3 linked regions of the Homo sapiens genome follow. The protein of the gene in region 3 interacts with the protein of the main gene of each other region in a pairwise test. Each region holds a gene or a part of one and is shown on either strand. Other genes may lie near its edges.

Evidence for each region.
Region 1: the proteins of SMYD1 (region 3) and KIF16B interact in binary tests that used the Homo sapiens proteins (3 or more experiments, as listed by UniProt).
Region 2: the proteins of SMYD1 (region 3) and HOMEZ interact in binary tests that used the Homo sapiens proteins (3 or more experiments, as listed by UniProt).

The regions. Positions count from the first base shown.
Region 1 is NC_000020.11:16,374,328-16,381,493, forward strand, and holds part of KIF16B (kinesin-like protein KIF16B), read right to left. Parts: intron 5,837-7,166; coding exon 4,478-5,836; intron 83-4,477; coding exon 1-82. UniProt on the Homo sapiens protein: Plus end-directed microtubule-dependent motor protein involved in endosome transport and receptor recycling and degradation.
Region 2 is NC_000014.9:23,276,047-23,283,212, forward strand, and holds part of HOMEZ (homeobox and leucine zipper protein Homez), read right to left. Parts: intron 1,142-7,166; coding exon 1-1,141. UniProt on the Homo sapiens protein: May function as a transcriptional regulator.
Region 3 is NC_000002.12:88,105,825-88,112,824, reverse strand, and holds part of SMYD1 (histone-lysine N-methyltransferase SMYD1), read right to left. Parts: intron 6,501-7,000; coding exon 6,337-6,500; intron 4,455-6,336; coding exon 4,286-4,454; intron 2,472-4,285; coding exon 2,313-2,471; 3' UTR 1-2,312. UniProt on the Homo sapiens protein: Methylates histone H3 at 'Lys-4' (H3K4me), seems able to perform both mono-, di-, and trimethylation. Acts as a transcriptional repressor. Essential for cardiomyocyte differentiation and cardiac morphogenesis.

The sequences.
Region 1 (7,166 bases), on a different chromosome or scaffold from region 3:
TTCCAGGGTCCCATGATGATCTTTTTGAACACCATCGACCTCATAAATCTTCTGTTTCAGCTGCTGGATTTCATATTCTAACCTACACAGATAGGAGCCACATAATTCATTCATTAATAGTATTTCCCGAGCATCCTTACTGTGTGAGACATTGCTTTAGATAGCATGGGGGAACAAGATCTGTCCTCTGTGTGCAAAGAACTTTACCTTCTAGTAGAAAAGGTGCCACATACCCATAAGACAAGACATAAAGTGCCATGGGCCACAAGAAGGGTCCAGGACGAGCACTGCAGGCATCCAGAAGGTAGAGTAATTTTGACTACCAAGAGCAAAGATCTCTCCACTGTGCTCCAAGCAAGTCCTAGAGGTAGGTGTATAGGATTCTGAGGCCTCTAACTGCTGCTTCAAAAAGAGTTGGTTGTGGACTACACATCAGGGTTCTGGTAAATACTTACGTTTGATGAAAAAGATCTATGTTTTAAAGAGTTTTAAAAACCACCAATCTAGGAGAAATTTCATAGCCATGGCAGTTCTAAGTTGAGTCTCCAGAGGCCAGTGGGAATGTTGTCATTTGGAGATGACGGCAGAAGATTATCTAAGTGCAGAAAGCAATACGAGCAATGGGGCAAGGGCATGAAAACCAGGCATCCACTTTGGGCTAAGGCAGAGGGCATGGGAAGGGGAAGCAGAAAAGACAGGCCTAGGAAAGTAGGTTGAGTTCCATGAGAAACTAAAATAAACCATAAAATTAACCTCCAGTGATAAGTGATACATCTATATGAGGTCAAATGTGTGTAAGGTCATTCTCCCACCGGCCCAGGCATACTTGAATCCAGCCCCATCAGGCCAGAGGGCCAACCTTGCCAGTGAATTTGGCCCCAGGAAGCAGGAGACTGCAGTCCACTCACTGTGTGAGCTTGGGGAAGTTATTTAAACACGGGTCTCAATTTCTTCATGGATCAAATGAGAGCGTCAACTAATCTCCCTCAATTCCTTCAGCTCTAAAAATCAGAGATTCTGGCTTCAGATGCCAACACACCATGATGCTGTCAACCCTCTGGTGTCACCAGCAGCAATTTGACTGCTCTATCTTGAACATGAAAGCCAAGTTCTGAATTTTCAGAAATGGATCACAGGGTCATGAGGGTAAGCACTCATGGGACCCACACGAGGCTGTGCCCAGTTTAACTCAGCCCTTTCTGGGTTTATTGATTAGCAAGTACTTCTAGAGCATCAATTTGTGGAACACACAGTATTTTCAAAAGACAAGACATAAGCAAAAAAAAAAAAATGATGTCAGAGGCCTGGTGGTGGCCAAATAATTGGGGAGCAATATTAATAGGGTATCATCAATGGCCAAAAAAAAAAAAAAATGAGCTGGATGTAGGCAGGCAATTAGCAATGTTTACAGTTAAGAAAACTCCTGCTGGGGTTGTTAAGAATTGTCCTTCAGCACAGGGCCAATGGCCAGTGGAAAAGACTCCACAGAGCAAAGAAGGGTTTGAGAGGTATCCTGAAGTCTGAGTGAGATTTATATGGATGGCAAGGGACAAGCTGGCCTTCCCGTGTGGCAGATACATGGTCAGAAGACTAGAGGGCTAAGTGGATCAGAGATGGGTGATGAGATTGAGATCTGACTTGCAACTCTGCCACTTTCTAACTGTGTGACACTCATCCCCAGTGGTTATACAACCACTGCAGGCTTCAGCTTCCTCATGTGTAAACTGTAGACGATGGCACCCTTTATTGGAAGAGTAAATGACAATGCACACACAGCATTTAAAGCAGGATCTGAGGTACACAGAGTTATTCTTCATGGTTTTCATCATGACTATTATCATCGTCATTGTTAAAGGACTCTGACAAGAAAACAGGATTAAGTGTGAGTATTAACAACTTGCCTCTGTTATCCCTGCTATGGTGATGGGAGGTATTTCTAGTTGGGTTACCTGATCCATGTCAATGGGGCAGCTGGAATGAGCAGGTGGTAGGAAAAAAGGCAGGAAAATGGATTAAACCTGGTTCATAAAGCACTGAGAAGGCAATGGGAGAGCCAAGTTCAGGACACTGTTGTCCAGTCTGGTCCCACATGAATTTAATATTTCACACTTGTGGAATTTTACGAGGGGCCAAGTCAGGCTGCACGGTGAATCCTGGCTTAGCCGTGAGAACCCTGGGAGAAAATGAAGCACAACAGAAATTCCCATAGAAAGCTGCGGGGGTATCGCAGTCAGAGCAGAGAGCCCGGAATCCGTCGGCCTGAATTAGGACTTAGCTAAGTCTATTTCATCAAAACTCATGAAGCTAACAGCCCCCTTTACTTGGCTTCTGAAGGAACACTCCCATTGTGTAATCACTTCCGTGGAAACTGCAATACTGTGTCTGCTATTATACAGTATTAATACTAAATGGCCAGGTGACAAAAGCCAAGGACATCAAGCTAAAAGCTCATGCTGCATTCTTATTGCACACTACAGGCTACAAATTGAGAGTGTGCCCTCCACTACTTTAAAGTTCCTGGGGCTGGATCTTTGTCTAGCAATTTCATTTACATAACATACCTGCAATCATTTTTTTAAACCTCCAACCTATTTCTCTGAAATAACAGCATTAGGGTTTTTGATTGTTATTTTGTTGCTGTTTTGCCTGAGGGAACTACCAGACAGCGATGGTAAATGTAATCCATAGCATAAGCCAATCATTTGAATGGAGGTTGTCCTGAACTTTTCAGGCAATGTGATGGGTGAAGCTACAGTAACACTTCTGAGTAGGTCTTCCTTGTTATCAGCAACCAGCCCCATGCATCAGCTAAATGCCAAGGTGGGGTCTCCTGGCCAGTACACTGGACTTCTGTTGAAGCCCCCTTAGGAGGTGCTGTGGGTGGGGGGAGTACTGCGGAGAGGGCAAGGTTTCATCTCTCCAATCTGAGCTTCAGTTAAGATCTCAACTGAGCAGGGAGTGGTGGCTCATGACTATAATCCCGGCACTTTAGGAGGCTCAGGTGGGAGAACTGCTTGAACCTAGGAGTTTGAGACCAGACTGGGCAACACAGGGAAACCCCATCTCTAAAAAAATAAAATACATAAAATAAATAAATAAATAAATAAATAGCCAGGCATGGTAGTATGCACCTGGGGTCCCAGCCACTTGGGTGGCTGGGGCAGGAGGATTGCTTGAGCCCAGGAGTTTGAGGCTGCAGTGAGCTATGATCACACTACTGCACTCCAGCCTGGACCCAGAGCAAGACCCTGTGATCTCATCCATCCTCTTCTTGTACAAGTGGTGACACTGAGGCCCAGTGATGAAAGATCCTGCCCAAGGTAGGAACATGCTACCATCTTGATAGGAAGGGGCTGAACCAGGCCATAAATTCCTCTTGCAAGTCTCCAAATTGGGTGATGTTTGCATCACCCAGGTGGCTGTTGGCCTTTCTGTGAGTCTTGCCATCAAGTCTTCAAGGCTCCAGAAAAGGTGTCCTCAAATTCACATAATATGCATTTTGAGAACTTATGGTCTGGTAAGTATGGTGACAGAAAATAGGTGAAGGAAGATAAATATTCTTACCTTACAAGACAAGAGTGCTAATTTCCTAGTTTTATTTTTCACAACAACAAAAATACTATCAGTAAATCACCAAACATGTTCTAATATCCCACTGTGTTCAGAATTATCTGGAGTTTTGTTTGTTGGTTCGGTTGACTGTTTTATAATGCAGAGTCCTGAGGCCTTCTCTTAAATACTGTGACTCAATAGGGGTGGGAGAAGTATTGATTTTTTCATTCCCAACATGTTGCAGAAATCAGTAGCCTGTATGCAAACCATGAACCCAGGGATGATACTTATTTCAACAAGTGCTGGTCATGGAGAAGATGTGAAATCATTAGTAAGAAAGGGCAGGGAAGTAGAGATGGAAAGAGGTGAGGGAGGAGGGAAGAAAATAGGGAGAGAAGGAAAGAGACAGGGAGCAAGTCAGAGAGGGGCAAGGAGGGAAGGAAGAAAGGGGAGGGAGAGGAAAGAGAGAGGGCAAAGGAAGAGAAAGGAGGAGGAAATAGATGCAATGGAAGGGAGAGGAGGGAACTGAAGGGGAAGAAGAAAGGGGAAAGAGAGGGAGACAGGCAAGGGAGATAAGAAAGAAGGAGAAATCAAAGTGGAAACTTTCTAGTCTTGCATTTATCAAAATATTAAAACACGCACATTCCATAGGACAGTGGGATAATGTACATGGGCTTTGCTTTTGTTTGTGTGTTTTTCAACTCTAGGCTAACAATTCTAAAAGAAGGACACTAAGGAGAAATACAAGAAGTTTAGGAGTACTTTTCTCAGTTCTGGCAAATATAAGCATTTGCCTATGTATTAAAGAATATGAAGGCTAAAAGAATAAGTTAAAAAAAAAAAAGGATAAACACAACATGAGGAGTGAAAAATGAGCACTCATTTGGCACCCACTGTATGCCACACCCTTCCTTCCCAATCTCACCTCTCCTGGTCCTTCTCCAGGGCTTCCTGCTCAGCCTCCAGGCTAGCCTGGAGCCCTGACTGCTCTCTGCTGCCACTGTTCAGACTGGCAAGTTTCTGCCTCTGCTCTTCAATCTCCATGCCCAGGGTGGAGTGCCTCTGCAGCGCAGAATGTCTCCTCTCCAGCCTGGCCAGGGCCCGCTCCAGCGCCTCTCTCTGCTGCTTCTCTCTGGACTCCAAAATCTCCTTTTCCTTTTTCCTCACTTTTTCCTCCTGACGTGCAATGTTGGCAGTGAATTCAAAGGTGGCTTGGAGCTTTTGCAGCTGGTTTGCATTGGCCTGGTACTGTGCAAGCTGTTCTTCTTTTTCTTCCATTTCCTTTTCTACTTGATAAAGAGTGTTGTCTAAGCTGAGAGGGCCTCTGTCAAGAATTTCAAATGCTCTCTGCTTTTCTTCCAACAGAGTTGGCAAGTGATTCTGCAGGAGGTACTGTAGCTGGCGTTCTTTATATTGCAGCCTGTACTCCACTGGCTTTATTTTCTCGAAATCTTGAGGCACTTCCGTGACATCTGTGACACTCTCATCATGTTTTTCCAACAATCTAGATTCTTTGTCATGTTCACATTTTAAACACTCTAGGATCTCCTGTTCTTCTTGGACTTCTTTTTTCAGGATGTCTTTCTGCTGAACCAGGTCCTTCTCCAAGTTCACTAGCTTGACAAGCTGCCTTCTCTTGAATTCGAAGAAACGCAGTTGAGCCTTTTCTAACTCCTCGCCATCTTCATCCCCTCCGGCACGAGCCTCCTTCACCCGCAGGAGGGATTCCCGAATGCCTTCCAGGTCCCTCTTCTCCTCTTCCACCCACTGTACCTCCCCACGCCGCAGGAGCTGGATCATCTCCTGCTTCTCTCGGAGCTGCTCTTCCAGATGGGCCACGAGCATGACCTGCTCCTTCTCCTGCTCCTCTAGTCTCTTTTTTTCCAGTTCAAGCTTGGCATACTGTTCATCTTTTTCCTTTTGGAGCTGGTCCAGTTCTTGAAATATCTGAAACTTCTCAGCCTTCTCGTTGTTGTTGAGTTCTTTGAGTCGTTGGAGTTCTTCTTGGACGCGGAGAAAGGTCTCTTCTTCTTGTCTCTTCTTCTGCAGCTCGATTTCCTGCTGTTCCCTCAGCCTCTCCTCTTCAAATTTTTCCTTCTCCGCAAGTAAATCCTTTAGCTTGTTCTCGATGTGGAAGCTGCGGCGTTTGAGGCTCTCCTCCTGCTTGCGAATCTGGAGCTGCACGATTTCTGTCTCCTTGCGCTGGGTCTCCACCTCCTGCTGCATCCGCTCCAGTTCAGCCTTGTCTGATTTCTGCTTTTCCTCCATTTCTTCTATGAGTTTCCTGAAATGCAAAGCACTGACTGGTTGTTATCTGGTCATTGTTCAAATGTTGCTCTAACTTTACTGAAATGTTCTGAAAATGCACATACAACCAGGTCAAAGCCTCCATTAAAATAAAAAAAAGAAGAGTAACTGCTTTCCTTTAAATTTCCAGCAGCATCCTGTTTAATTTTTTTTATTTTTTAACTGTCCAACATATCACCTGCCTATTCTCCTGAAGTGGCTTCTGATATCATTTCTTTGTAGAGCATATAATCATAATGTGTTATGCATGATATAATTTTAAAAGGCCCCTGAGCTCAAAGAGAAAGAACCATGCCCAATTTAAATTAAATGTGAATAACTTTATTCAGCCCAATGACTAAAACTCAACAGAAGTTGTTACAAGACAACATTAAATAAAAATGCTTATGCTGTCCTCATCTCATTGGGGTCAAATATCAAAGTCATGATAATCGACAGTTCATTGTTCCAGCTAAAAAATACATACTATTTAGCATTTAATCACTAGTTTGGGACAAATGGTGATCACCAAATGGTCCAAAATGTTAGTTTATTAGTGCATAACACTGAAAACAACTGGAGCCTCCATTGGAATATACAAAATGCATAATTTTGCAGGCTGGTGGGGAGGTGACATGTTGTGTTTTCTGTTGGAGAACAAATGATCTCCACTGGGTACTGTACTGAAGTTTAGGGTTGGGATGGCCTCCAGAGGAAGAACACAGAGTTAGAGCAGGAATACTGGGCTTCCACCTCCTGACCCACCAAACGTCTATCTTGGATGATGCTGGAAACTAAGCCAGTTTATTTGTGACATTTAAACTCCAGGTCCTACTAAATAAACATTTACTTTGCAGATTTTCTATAGCCTTAGTTTTTACTCTAACTCTCATCTTTGGTCTACGTCTTGGCTGGTTAAATAGGACAGGAAAAACAGAAAAGGAGAAAATACAGTTTTATCAGGTAAAGAATTATTTCAGAACATATAAAGAACTGCCCAAATCAATTAAACAGCCATTTCTCCCTCCACCCTGCCCCCCCATACACAAAAGAAAAGTGAGCAAAGAATAAGAAAAGCAAATTATACATGGGGAAATACAAATGGCCAAACAATATCAGGAAAGATGTTTTAAAAGCAGGCAGGTAGAAGGAAGGCAAATTGTCATTCTTCAGGCTTTTTAAAAACTCAGGGGATATTATTAAGAGAAGATCTACTTTTGATTAAATTTAAATGAATACATTTTGGTGTATTAAATTTAATTGGTGTGTTAAATTTGCCTACTGACTCTATTTCCCATTTCTCATAAATATTTGAAGATGAACGTTTA
Region 2 (7,166 bases), on a different chromosome or scaffold from region 3:
CCAGTGATCTGTTCTAACTTTTGGTAATCCTCACGCCGTGCCCACTGGCACTGTAAAAAAAAGGATTTAAGGATAGCCAGCTGCTCTTTGGTTTTGCGCTTGGTCTTTCGCTGGCGTTGCATATCTGGGGAAAGGTACTCTGTGGGGCCAACTCTACCTGGTACTGAGTTATGCCGTAGCCCTTGGGGCCAGGCTGGTTCCAGATGTGGGGGTAATGCCTGTTCACTGGGTGACACTGACTGTGGGACACAGCCTAGTGGCTGGAGGGGTTTAGAGGCGGCAGTAGCTCCATTAGCCAGTACCTGGAAAGAAGAAGAGGTAGAGGAAGAAGAGGGAGTAACACTAGATGCTGACTCCTCCTTACAACTACTGGCAATTAATGCAATTGGTGGGGGTTTATCCCGAGCTTGTGGCTGGGGGACGGTTGTGGAGTGGTTCCAGGAAGCAGTACCTATGCCATGTGACTGGTTGGGACCCCTGCCTGCCTGCTCCTTTGAGAGGCCACTGCTTTGAAGATGTTGCCAAAAATCTGATTGGTAGGGGAATGCTCCACTGCCAGGTGTCATCAGGGACTCCTTTAATTTCTGGTGACTCTGTGGCAGTGGTGGCATCTGAGAGGGCTCCTCAGGCTCTACCTTCAATCCTTTCGTCTGGGTAGGCTTGCTAAGAGTTGGAGGACCTATTCCAATACCAACTTGCTCTGGAGCTGGCACTGGAGGAGGAGGCACCTCCTCTGGGGGCCGTCCCGCATGATGAGTAAAAGAGAGAAGGGATTTGAAATGGAGTTGGTCCCGACGGTAGACTACTCGGGCTCGAGTCTCTTCTATTTCTTCAGATGACCAGCTAATACCACAGCGGAGGCGCTGGGCCATAAACCAAGTCTTGACTTTCTCCATCTGCAACCCATAACGTAGGCAGAGAAGGGCAATGTCTGCTAGGCTGGGATAGGGAAAGTAGCTGAAGGTTTTGAGCAGGTGTTCATTGCTGTCTAGCTCACTGGTCTGGGCTGCTTGCGTCCACACAAGCTGTAGCTCCTCAGAGATTGGAGGGAGGCAGATGAGCCCCGCTGGTGAACTACTGAGACCGCTGGCCTCTTTATTAGGAGGCATGGTGCCTTCTGATTTGTGCCCTTCAGAGATAGCTGCAATAAGAAGACAAACAGCTCAATCACTGGGTCTCCTCTTCTGACACACTGCTCAATTTCTACCAAACTAACTGCTGGACACCAGAACAATTTAATCTGTATTTGTATCATGTTGTATTGCTTTTTAAGTGCCTCAACAATTTCTTATTTAATTTTCATAAACTTAAGTCATCAGACCCTGCTTTAATTCCCATTTTCTGTGGACCAAAGTCCATAGACGTTAAATTACCCCAAGCCACATGACTGGTGAGTGTTGTTCCAAGAAAAAAATCTGTCTTTAAAGCCAGCCATGGTGGCTCATGCCTGTAATCCCAGCACTTCGGGAGGCCGAGGTGGGAGGATTGCTTGAGCCCAGAGCTTTGATACCAGCCTGGGCAACACAGTGAGACTACAAAAAATTTAAAAATCAGCTGGGCATGGTGGTTCGTGCCTGTCGTCCCAACTACTTGGGAGGCTGAGGCAGGAGGACTGCTTGAGCCTGAGAGGTTGAGGCTGCAGTGAGCTATGATTGCACCACTGCACTCCAGCCTGGGTGATAGAGTGAGACCCTATCAAAAAAAAAAAAAATCTGTCTTTAGAAGTTAAGAAGGAAAACTGATCCTGATATAGCTTTTTTTAGTGTGTATGTGTGTGTCTGTGTGTGTGTGCGTGTGTTTTGAGATGGAGTCTCACTCTCTCGCCCAGGCTGGAGTGCAGTGGCATGATCTTGGCTCACTGCAACCTCCACCTCCCAGGTTCAAGCAATTCTCTACCTCAGCCTCCCGAGTAGCTGGGATTACAGGTGCCCGCCACCACGCCCGGCTACTTTTTGTATTTTTAGTAGAGATGGGGTTTCACCGTCTTGGCCAGGCTGGTCTTGAACTCCTGACCTCGTGATCCACCTGCCTCTGGCCTCCCAAAGCTGGAATTACAGGCATGAGTCACCACACCCAGCTGGTGGGTTGTTTTTTTTTAAAGAGATAATATTGCTCTGTCACCCAGGCCACCCAGGCTGGAGTGCAGTGGCACCATCATAGCTCTGATACAGCCTTTATCTTTCCTATTCAAACCCACTTCTAGAAGCTATCCACCAACTCTCACCTTCTAAATTCATGGAACAAGAATCACATAGTGAAGACTCAACCACAAAAACAAGAGGAGCAATAATTTCAACTGGTTTGTGTGTGTGTGCATTTTTGTTTTTGTTTTTTCAAGAGACAGGGTCTCACTCTGTTGCCTAGGCTGGAGTGCAGTGGCATGATCATGGCTCATTGCAGCTTTGAACTCTTAGGCTCAAGCAATCCTCCCACCTCAGCCTCCCAAGTAGCTAGGACTACAGGTACATGCAGCCATATCCGGCTAATTTTAAAATTTTTTGTAGACAGGGTCTCACTATGTGGCCTAGGCTGGTCTCAAACTCCTAGCCTCAAGTGATCCTCCCACCTCAGCCTCCCAAACTGCTGAGATTACTGGAGTGAGCCACTGTACCCGGCCCTCAGAATTGTTTGTTTGTTTGTTTGTTTTTGAGCAGGATCTTGCTCTGTTGCCTAGACTGGAGTAGAGTGGCATGATCTCAGCTTACTGCAGCCTCCGCCTCCTGGGTTCAAGTGATTCTTGTGCCTCAGCCTCCTGAATAGCTGGGACTACAGGCGTGTGCCACCATGCCCTGCTACATTTTGTATTTTTAGTAGAGACGAGGTTTTACCATGTTAACCAGGCTGGTCCCGAACTCCTGACCTCAAGTGATCCACCGGCCTCGGCCTCCCAAAGTGCTGGGATTACAGGCGTGAGCCACGGCGCCTGGCCAGAATTGTTAATAACTATTTTTTTTTTTGAGACAGAGTCTTTCTGTCACCCAGGCTGGAGTGCAGTGGCGTGATCTTGGCTCACTGCAACCTCCACCTCCCGGGTTCAAGTGATTCTCCTGCCTCAGCCTCCTGAGTAGCTGGAATTACAAGCGTGCACCATGATGCCCAGCTAATTTTTGTACTTTTAGTAGAGACGAAGTTTCACTATTGTTATAAATAAAGTTTCGGTGCCACAAAAGAAATAGCAATCGAATATAAAATTTTCTTTTTTTTTTCTTCTCAGTAGGGCAATTTACTTCTATAGAAGGGTGCGCCCTCATAGATGGAGCAGTGGTGAGCACACACCTGGACAAAAGAGGGGAAGAAGTTCTTATTCCTGACACAGGTGGCCCCTGCCGCTGTCATTCCCATATTGGCTAGGGTTAGACCGCACAGGCTAAACTAATTCCGATTGGCTAATTTAAAGAGAGTGACCGGGTGAGTGGTTTGGTGGGGAAAATGGTTATGGCAGAGCAGGAAATCGGAAGGAGTCAGGGTGGAGAATGAGTCAGGGCAGAGCAGGTAATCGGAATGAGTCAGGGTGGAGCAGGTGATCGAAAAAGGTTGCTTTACAAGGAAGTTAAGTTTAAAAGTAGAAGGCAAAGAATTGAACATACTGACATATTGATTCTTTGAAGAGAAATTTAGAACTCATATCTAATGCTATGTTGGCCAGGCTGGTCTCGAACTCCTGACCTCAGGTGATCCACCTGCCTTGGCCTCCCAAAGTGCTGGGATTACAGGCATGAGCCACCGCGCCTGGCCACTATTTTTTTTTAGAGACAAGTTCTCGTTATGTTGCCCAGGCTGGCGTGCTATGCATAGGTGCAATCATAATGCACTACAGCCTCGAATTCCTGGGATCAAGTGACCCTCCTGCCTCAACCTCCTGAGTAGTTAGAACTACAGGTGCACAACATTGTTCCTGGCTTGTTACTAACTCTTTGGCTGCTAACAATTTATATTTAGAATGTGGATCAACAGATTGGGAATACAACTGATGAATATCTGGAAGGTAGGACAGCACTGTCCTCTGCCCAGCCCCCCTTTTTTCTTTCCCTTCTTGGTGGTGGAGTGTTGGGGGAAGGCGACTGACAGTACCTTTAAGCCCTAAGCCCAAACCTGATAGCTTTATTTTTTCCATCTCTTGGTTGGATGAGAGACATGGGTCAGAGATTGGGGATAAATGAGGCTCACTCCCCTAACCCTTTAGGTCATGTGAAAATAGAGAGGGGAATGTTTCCTCCTCCAAGTCAGCCTTGGAACAAAGGTTATCCCCTCCCCCAGCCTTTGTCTCTTCCAACAGCTCAGCTTCTCCCCAGGGAGCCCAGAAAGCTCCCTCAGTCACTAACAGCCCCCTCCACACAGGGCAGAAGGTCTCCTGAGCTTAACTTTTCAGCCCAGCTTTCTCCTCAAGACCAGGTGGACAGGCTCATTATAAATTGTAACCAGCTCCTGCAAGCTACCCAGCAGCACCACTGCTCCCAGGATTATGGGTATGGGGACTGCAGGAATAGCCTTTGACTGTGCTGCTTTCCTGAAATAACTGCTCAAGTTATTTCCCAGAATATTCTGTTGACAATTTTTAACTCAGCTCCCTGTGTGGGCACTAGAGACCCTTTAACACATCCATCACCCTTTACTCTTAGGGGAATCACATCTGTTATATTTTATTTTTATTTTTATATTTTTATTTTTATTTTATTTTATTTTATTTTATTTTATTATTTTATTTTATTTTATTTTATTTTATTTTATTTTATTTTATTTTATTTGGAGACGGAGTCTTGCTCTGTCGCCAGGCTGGAGTGCAGTGGCACGATCTTGGCTCACTGCAACCTCCGCCTCCTGGGTTCAAGTGATTCCCTTGCCTCAGCCTCCTGAGTAGCTAGGACTACAGGCGCACGCCACCACACCTGGCTTTTTTGTATTTTAGTAGAGACAGGATTTCACCATGTTGGCCAGGATGGTCTTGATCTCCTGACCTCGTCATCTGCCTGCCTCAGCCTCCCAAAGTGCTGGGATTTCAGGCGTGAAACACCGGGCCCAGCCTTCTATCTGTGTTTTTAAGTATTACTCCTGATCTGCTAAGGACAGGACAGGATTCCTATGTAAATGCTACACGATGAATTGCAAAAATAAACCTCAAGTCCATACATTTAGAGCAATGTGATCGCAGGGATTTTACACCATGATTTTTAAAATTCAGAAGCATTTTAATACGTGTCACCATTTCCTTTTAACAAGCAAATCTAACTAACTGAGGCCACGCAGACCCTGAAAGCAATACTGCTTGAAGAGCCCCTTAAGAGGGTCAATGGAGGCAGCATGGCATGACGGGTAGAAATATGAATTCTTCAATAAGGCCAACCTCTGAGTTTGAATCCCGGTTCTGCCACTTATCAGCTATGTGATCTCAGGCAAGTTACTTAACTTACATGAGCCTGGTTTCCTCCTATGTAACAAAGTGAAGACAGTGCAGAGAGTACGTAAGAGTACTACGTGCTAGGTGTTATGCATAGGCAGGGCATAGAGCAAATGTTAGGGGATGGATGTCCGGGGTGAGACAAATTAATGCAACTCCACTTCCTAGAATGCTGCTTGTCCTCAGGCAGTTATTTAACTTCTCTAAGTCTTAGTTTCTCATGAGAAAAAAAGCACCTTGGGCCGAGCGCAGTGGCTCATGCCTGTAATGCCAACACCTTGGGAGGCCAAGGTGGGCAGATGGTTTGAGCCCAGGAGTTTGAGGCCAGCCTGGGCAACATGGTGAAACTGTCTCTACAAATAATAATAATAATAATAATAATAATAATAATAATAATACAAAATATTAGCTGGGCATGGTGGCGCAACTGTAGTCCTAGCTACTCGGGAGGCTGAGGTGGGAGGATTGCTTGAGCCTGGGAGGTGGAGGTTGCAGTGAGTCGAGATTGTGCACTGCACCACAGCCTGGGTGACAGAGACCCTGTCTCAAAAAGAGAAGAAAAAAGCAAAAAAGCACCTACCCAGCAAGTTTATGACTAAATGAAAAAGTGCACTTGACATTATAACTAGAACAAAGTAAGGGCTCAATAAATAGCAGCTTTTATCATGACTTCAACTTCATGGAGGTGATTTTGATGTGAAGTAATGCTCCTCCTAGACAATGGGGTAACTGGGACAAAGACTGAATCATTTAACATTCACTGTTTTCAATCTATTTTTGCAGAGCCCTAATTCTAGTTAGCGATGAGGAAACCAGTGTATCTGTGATTCTATACTTTTACATTTTGGGGTTTAAATACAATTTCAGAATGTATTTGCCACTTAAAAAAATGTATGAAAACCAGTGCTTTAGAACTGCATCCATAATTTGGATCCTTTGTGATCGGTGTGTCAGTTGCCTATGTGATAGTTCCACCTTTCGCCTTCCAGGTTCATCCAGGACACAGCTGAAATGGCCTGGGAGGCACTGCTTGCATGGCCAGGTGCTAAACTACCATTTACAAATTGTGGCCCACCGAGAACACCACCAAATCCAAGCTGGAGAACACTTTATGATGGCAATGCTTGACGTCTACTTAACCTCATTTGTGTCCTATTATATAAAGACACAATAACACTTTAGAGATAAGGAAAATAAAGCATAAGGAACAAAGCAGTCCAGTGTGAGGATGAATACTGCCAGATGGGAATATAAGGCAGGCACATTTATAAGTATTAAAAGCTGTAAGGAAGCATTTTACTTTCGTTTAGGTGGCTTGATGTCCTTCACATTCTCGGCATCAGCTTGATATTTCAGTGTAACATACAGTACTGCAAACAACATATTTGGTGTACTATATGCATTCAGTTTTCACTTACACAAAACACCAGTTATGGAACACTTCCTGAAACAGAATGGTGGCTTAAATCAAGGCACAGCTGTATAGCTGGTACTTCCCTGGAAGAATCTGGCTTTGAACTAAGAGAAAACCACAACCAGAATGGCTCATGAGAATTATAACAGGTAGGGTAGACCCTATAGTAATCAAAATCATAATAAAGACACTAGAGTATCTTGTGTTCTTGTGTGTCCATTTTGGATTGAGTAGAAAAAGAAGAGAATCAAAAGCTGAAGTGAGGAGTCCTAGCGCAGAGGAGGTAGTGGTGGTGGTGGTGGTGAATATCTATTCTGAACAACTTCTAAATTTGTATCCTTATTAAATATGCCAGAT
Region 3 (7,000 bases):
GGACCAGCGAAGGAACCTGAGAAACTAGATCAGAAGATCATCACAGGGAAGTGGGTCACCAAAATCAATGGCTGGGAGTGATGATTGACATCGAAAGGCCAAATCACATAGGAACTAAAATGTACCCATTAGATTTGATCTTGGTAAGAGCCCTTTTAGTGAAGGAGTGGGAGTGGAAGTCAATCTGCAATGGATTCAAGAAGAAATGCAAAGTGAAGAAAGGCAGATGATAACTATACAACTAAAAAAAACTCAGTCATGAAGATTAAGATCCAAGAGTTCTCAGCATTTTTACTGATTGCACCTGAGAAGGCCAGTGGGGTGACAAATGTCAAGGATCCAGGATGGAGAAGCAATAATAGATGGAGCAAAGTCTGGGGGTCAAAGCAGGGGAAGGGATCCAGAGTACATTCCAAAGGGAAGAAGGACTTGCATTCCAGTGGTCTGAGAGGGAAGGAGGAGCACAGACACAGAACACAGTTTGTTAAAGACAACAAATATTAGAAAGATAGGATGGAAAAAAAGACTACGAATATGGGGAAATGACCAGGGGCTTAGCAGATAACAATGACAAAGAAGGGAAAAAGGTTTGGGGGAGACATTTTATATGAAGGTAAAAGAGTGATAATTTGAACTAGCCAGTTAGATCCCTGGGAGAAAGTTAGTGCCGTCCCTAAGCCTGTGATGTGGGGGCTTGAAAGACTATCAGTCTTCTTGTAAAACCTTCCAGAAAGGAAATTCTTCAAACAAGACCTAAGTGTCAGATACAAGTATTTTGCAAAAGTGTGGCCCATTTGCAGAGTTTTCAGCCACTGGGTAGTGCTCAGAGGGACACAGCAGGTCATCATGTGGTGAGGATGGAGAAGCTAACATTTAGGCAGAGATAACAAACGTGGGACCTGGTGGGATCAATTTACTTCAAGATGTGGGGTACAGCTCTGAGGTCAATGGTAGTCCTGGGTTGTGTAGAAGTCTTGGTGACACCCCAAACTGAAGGGATCTTTTCCAGGATCTCCCAAAACATTGGTGAGAAATTTGGGGTCTCAGTAGATAACAGGATAACAGGCTAATCTTGGGACTGGTTGATTCTCAAGACCCTCATTTCTTAGATGGAAATCACAACAGCCTTCCAGGAGATCGGGATAAATTGGCCACACCTCTGAACAGGGTCTAACCCAGGTGTACAAGAATCCAGATTCAAATGTTCTTTCTGGTGAGAAGAGCAGAAGCCCCCAGGGCATGACAGAAAAAGAAACTCAACAAGGGAAGTAATAATTATTCAGTATTGAGAATGGAGCTTCATGGGGGCCCATGATAGAGTCTAAGCTGGTAAAGACCACCCAGGCACATGTAACCAAATAAAGCCCCCAAGGGCCAATTCTGCAGGGCCCATGATCAACAGGTATGTGTGTTTCCAAGATTCTCTCTCAGCTTCACTTTGAAAATATTTTTTAAATCCTACTAGGCAAATAGCCAGAAAAATATCAGACATTATCTAAAATCACAGGGAACCACAAGGCTTGGTAATAAGGGTGATAGAGGGACTTATTCCCTCTCTGTGTGTTCTAGAAATATTTCTAGAATTCTAGTTGGAACCCAGACTTTTTTTCCCTGGACTTTAAGACCTCAGTTGGTTTGGGCAAGGCCCCCAGCCAGCTCTTTCGACATATGCACCATTCTGAAGTGGTTTCAGGTCTCTGAGTAGAGCCTACGTGGCCCAAACACAGCCCCTTCTTCAAAACTCCACACCAACCACACAGTATCACATATCCTGCTCAGCCAATTGTGTCTACTGCAGACCACAGGTGAGACCAGCAGCCCCAGAGACACCTGCACAGATGGGTGAGCAGCCACCTGAGACTCCAGGCACCTGCTACCCTCAACTCAGATGTCATACTCTCTGTGATACCCCCACTGCACACACACACATCACACACCAGACACATTCCCTCCTCTGCACCCTCCTCCATATAGTTTATAATTGCATTTATTATTACAGTGTGCTTTAAATGTTTCTCTACATTTTGCTTCCCCACCCAACGACATTTGGAGCTCCTTTATTGGGTTCTAGGGCCTATCATCCAATAATATTTGTAGGAGGAGTTGATCTGGGCTGGGCTAGAGTTAACTTGAATTGAATAGACTTGAATTGAGCCAAAATGGCTCTGGGAAACATAGGGCAGTAAATTCTCACAGCAACAATGTTAAGCATTACCTCAACTTCCTCATTAGGGGTCTCCCGAGAGACCCACCACCTCCAGAGTCTCTCCCTAGCTCCCCAGCCACATCGCCCCTCCTCCACTGGGCAGTCCTCATTGCTTCTTGTGGAACAGAGCTGGGGATGGCTCATTGCTGGGCTCGGCCATGACCTGCATGGGCTGGTTGTTCAGGGCAGCCTCGCGCATCTTGTAGTACATGAATTCGTTCTGGCGGAACATGCGTAGCTCCATCTCCGTCTGCACCCGCATGGCCTGTGGGACACAGATACACCGTAAACAGTGATAGCAAGCCCCTAGGACATGCTGGTCTCTGATATACCTTGGGGTAAATTATTTCCAGCCACGGAGATTCAACTCTACCCCCTCAGAATACACACACACACACACACACACACACACACACACTCATTCATCAAGGGCCTAATGTCCTGGCAGTGGGCCCACTTTGTCAGGGAGAGGGAGTCAGAACCCTGAGAGAGTAGCTGAAGGAACCGTTCTCAGAAAAGAATGCTTGTTCCCAGGAACTGCCCAGTGGGGACCTGGATTTGAACCCTGGCCCCTGCAGATACTAGTGTGGGACCTCAGGCAAGAGACATAATCGCTTCAGCCGTCAGTTTTCTCACCCATTTTGTGGCTTCATACCTTACCGTGGGTTGGGAAGATGACAGTGTGTGACACACAGAAGAGCCCTCATCCTCCCACATGTCCATTCAAGAAATACTTCTTAAGGGCCAGGCATTCAGAGGCCGAGGATACAGCTGTGAGTAAAATTGACAAAGGCTCTGCCTTTGACAGGCTCGGTACCCTAAACATAAAGCTAGTTAGTCCGCTTCTCTGCCCCTCACTTGGTCCTCCTGCCAATTTTAAGGGGCTAATATATTATTTCCATTTTATAGATGAGGAAACCTGGGATCTGAATAGTAAGAGGACATCCATGTCTGAGACCACGCCAGTCCTAAATGTCATAGTCATCCTACATTTTATAACACCAAAGTCTGTCCACCTTCCCTAGACTGTACTGTCTGAGGACAGCCCTGTCACTCTCAAATAAACCAGCTTTTCAAAGCACCAAGGACATCAGCAGCACCATTTGCCAGGCACTAAGTGCATTTCACACATTGACTCATGAACACGCATCACAACCCTATCCTTTCCCCCTATTTTACTGATGAGGAGACTGACAGCCATACATTCAATATTTGCAAAATCACACAACCAGAAAGCGGTGAAGCTGGAACTCAACCTGGAGGTCTGATTCCAGAGCCTGTGATCCCTAACTCCACTCCATGTTACACAGAATACTTTCTAATATAAATGGCTGTGTGCATGCACACACGCACACATGCACACCCCATTGTTTACGCTTCCTCAGTCCAGGCTTGGGGTGTTATGATTCAACAGACTCAGGCTTCAAGTCTTAGCTTTGCCATTAGCTCGCTATGTGACTATGGACAGATTGTCCTCCTTCCCTGGGCCTCAGTTTCCTCATGTGTGAAGCAAGGTGATATGGTTTGGATATCTGTCCCTTCCAAATCTCACATTGAAATGTGATCCCCAGTGTTGGAGGTGGGGCCTGGTAGACGTGCTTGAGTCATGGGAGCAGATCCCTCGTGAATTGCTTAGTGCCACCCACTTGGTAGGAGTGAGTTGTCGCTCTGAGTTCACACCAGATCTGCTTGTTGAAAAAAGCCTGGCACCTCTGCCTCTCTCTCTTGCTCCCTCTTTCATCAGGTGACACACTGGCTCCCTTTCCCTCCTGGCATGATTAGAAGCTTCCTGAGGCCCTCACCAGAAGCAGATGCCAGCACCACACTTCCTATACAGTCTGCAGAACCATGAACCAACATAAGCCTCTTTTCTTTATAAATTACCCAGTCTCAGGTATTCATTTAGGGTAACATGAACAGTCTAACACACAAGGGTAGTGGGCTAAAGCGTTTCTGAGTTCCCTTTTGTCTAGCTGGGAGTATGTGGACTTTTCTAAAGCAGAGTCCACCTGAACTCACACTCCCATCCTCAGAAAGCTCAGGCCAGGAAGGGAACACCAGCCTCAAGACGCTACTTGCCTCTAAGTCCTTAGTGATGGGGTGGGAGGGTCCGTGTGTCACCAGGAGAATGGCATAGGCTTTGCAGATCATCCCGTGCCCCACCTCAATGTTACCAGCATGCCAGTTGGTCAGCCCTGCCCGCATCACGGCCATGCCCAGTTGGGCATTGTTGGGGTGGTAGAGCTTCCTGTGGGAGCATAGCAGATAATTATACATCATACCAATCACCCTTATATCTGCACTTAATTTAATAATGTATAAAGTGCCCTTGTTGATTAAGCCCATCTGTCTTCCCCTCAGCACTGCAAGGCTTCTGTAGCCGCCAAGGGGGAACTGAGGCACAGAGATATGGAACAAGTTGCCAAACATTCTACACAGTGAGGCTGTGACAGCTGAAACTCCGGCCTGGGCTGCCCAGCCAACTCCTTGTGAGAAAAAGGGACCAGGATCATACTTTCTGAGCTTGGGGACTCTAGCCAAGATGGCCGAATAGGAACAGCTCCAGTCTACAGCTCCCAGCGTCAGCGACGCAGAAGACGAATGATTTCTGCATTTTCAACTGAGGTACCAGGTTAATCTCACTGGGGATTGTCGGACAGTGGGTGCAGGACAGTGGGTGCAGCGCACCGAGTGTAAGCCGAAGCAGGGCAAGGCATGACCTCACCTGGGAAGTGCAAGGGGTCAGGGAATTCCCTTTCCAAACCAAGGAAAGGGGTGACAGACAGCACCTGGAAAATTGGGTCACTCCCACCCTAATACTGCGCTTTTCCAATGGTCTTAGCAAATGGTACCCCAGGAGATTATATCCCACGCCTCGCTCGGAGGGTCCTACACCCATGGAGCCTCGCTCATTGCTAGCACAGCAGTCTGAGATCAAACTGCAAGGCGGCAGCGAGGCTGGGGGAGGGGCGCCCGCCATTGCTGAGGCTTGAGTAGGTAAACAAAGCCGCTGGGAAGCTCGAACTGGGAGGAGCCCACTGCAGCTCAAGGAGGCCTCCCTGCCTCTGTAGACTCCATATTATCTGAGCTTGAGCACAGGAAGCTCACAGCATTTGGGAGTACCTCAGACGTCTCCCCAAAAAGTGGTAGGAAGGTCAAGGGAGAAAAAAATAATTTAAATGTCCTTTTTGAGACAGCATTGTATTTTCACCTGGTTGGCACCCTTTTGCAGGGCTTCCTTAGCATGTTGTACAGTTTATCTACATTTTGTTTATGACTAACATCCTCTCAAAGAAATGAACGTGTGTCAACTTATTTGGCCAGAAACACAAATTTGCATGACAACATAAACACAGAAAGCAAGAGAGGGTATTGGCAGATGGAAGGCAAGGGAATTGAATTTTACAATTTTTTTTTTTTGAGACAGTCTTGCTCTGTCGCCCAGGCTGGAGTGCAGTGGCGCAGTCTAGGCTCACTGCAAGCTCCGCCTCCCAGGTTCACGCCATTCTCCTGCCTCAGCCTCCCAAGTAGCTGGGACTACAGGTGCCCTCCACCATGCCTGACTAATTTTTTGTATTTTTTAATAGAGACGGGGTTTCACCATGTTAGCCGGGATGGTCTCTATCTCCCCACCTCGTGATCCTCCCGCCTCGGCCTCCCAAAATGCTGGGATTACAGGCGTGAGCCACCGCGCCTGGCCAGAATTTTACAATTTTTAAGCAAAGTGATTGATGGCTCTTTTAAAAATAAATAAATAAATAAATAAAAGCTCCTAGACTTGCCTGTGTTGATTACAGGGTGGAGGGCAGGGTCCAATCACTTAAAATCAAGCTGGGGTTAGCCTGAAGGAAGTCAAAAGCAGAAGATGCCACCCAAGTGATAGATGTGCTGGAGAATTTGGGAAAGACCAGGGATGACAAATAGGTTTCATCTCAAGCACAAACTCTGATTGGTCATTAACACTGGAGCACCATGATAAAAAGACTCAGTCAAAAAGAGAACCATGATGGATTACTGACGCCTGCTGTGGGTATAGGAGGGAGAGGCACCAGTAAATGTGCCATCTATTTGCCATCCCTGGAATACACACACTTCCAGGAGACTATCTGAGACCTAGAATCGTCACCTACATATAGCCGTCCACCATCCTCCTGGCATAGAACGAGGCCTCCTCAAAGGCCTGGAGGTAGGAAAGGACCTCCGAAACAATGCTCAGCATCCGCAGCATGTAGATGTTGGTGTCAGCAAACACTGGCTCCTGCTTCTCCAGGCACTCCCGGCATAATTTCACAACCTAGAGTGAGACAGAGGCCCTGCCCATTACCATTGCACCAGAGCACACGTTTAATTCACATACGCGACCATCATGGTGATACCAGACAATCATTCTTTTTAAGACTGGGGCAATTGCTGACAGAGGTGGGAAAGCACAGGTTTGGGGTATGAATTGCAAAGTGGTCCTGTTGGCTAAGGTGTAAGAATGGGAAGGGTAATGGTGTGAGACATGGCAGATGCAGCACAGCGAGGAGTTTCCAAAATCAATAGGTAGCAGGAAGCTATGAAAGCTATACATACACACACACACAAACACACACATATATGTACAGTCAGATCTGTATATGCACAAGTTCCACATCCATGGATTCAACCCACTGCAGGTCAAATATATATATATATTTCGAGACAAGAGTCTCACTCCATTGCCCAGGCTGAAGTGCAGTGGCTCAGTCTCAGCTCACTGCAACCTCCCCGTCTTAGCTTCAAGCGATTCTCCTGCCTCAGTCTCCTGAGTAG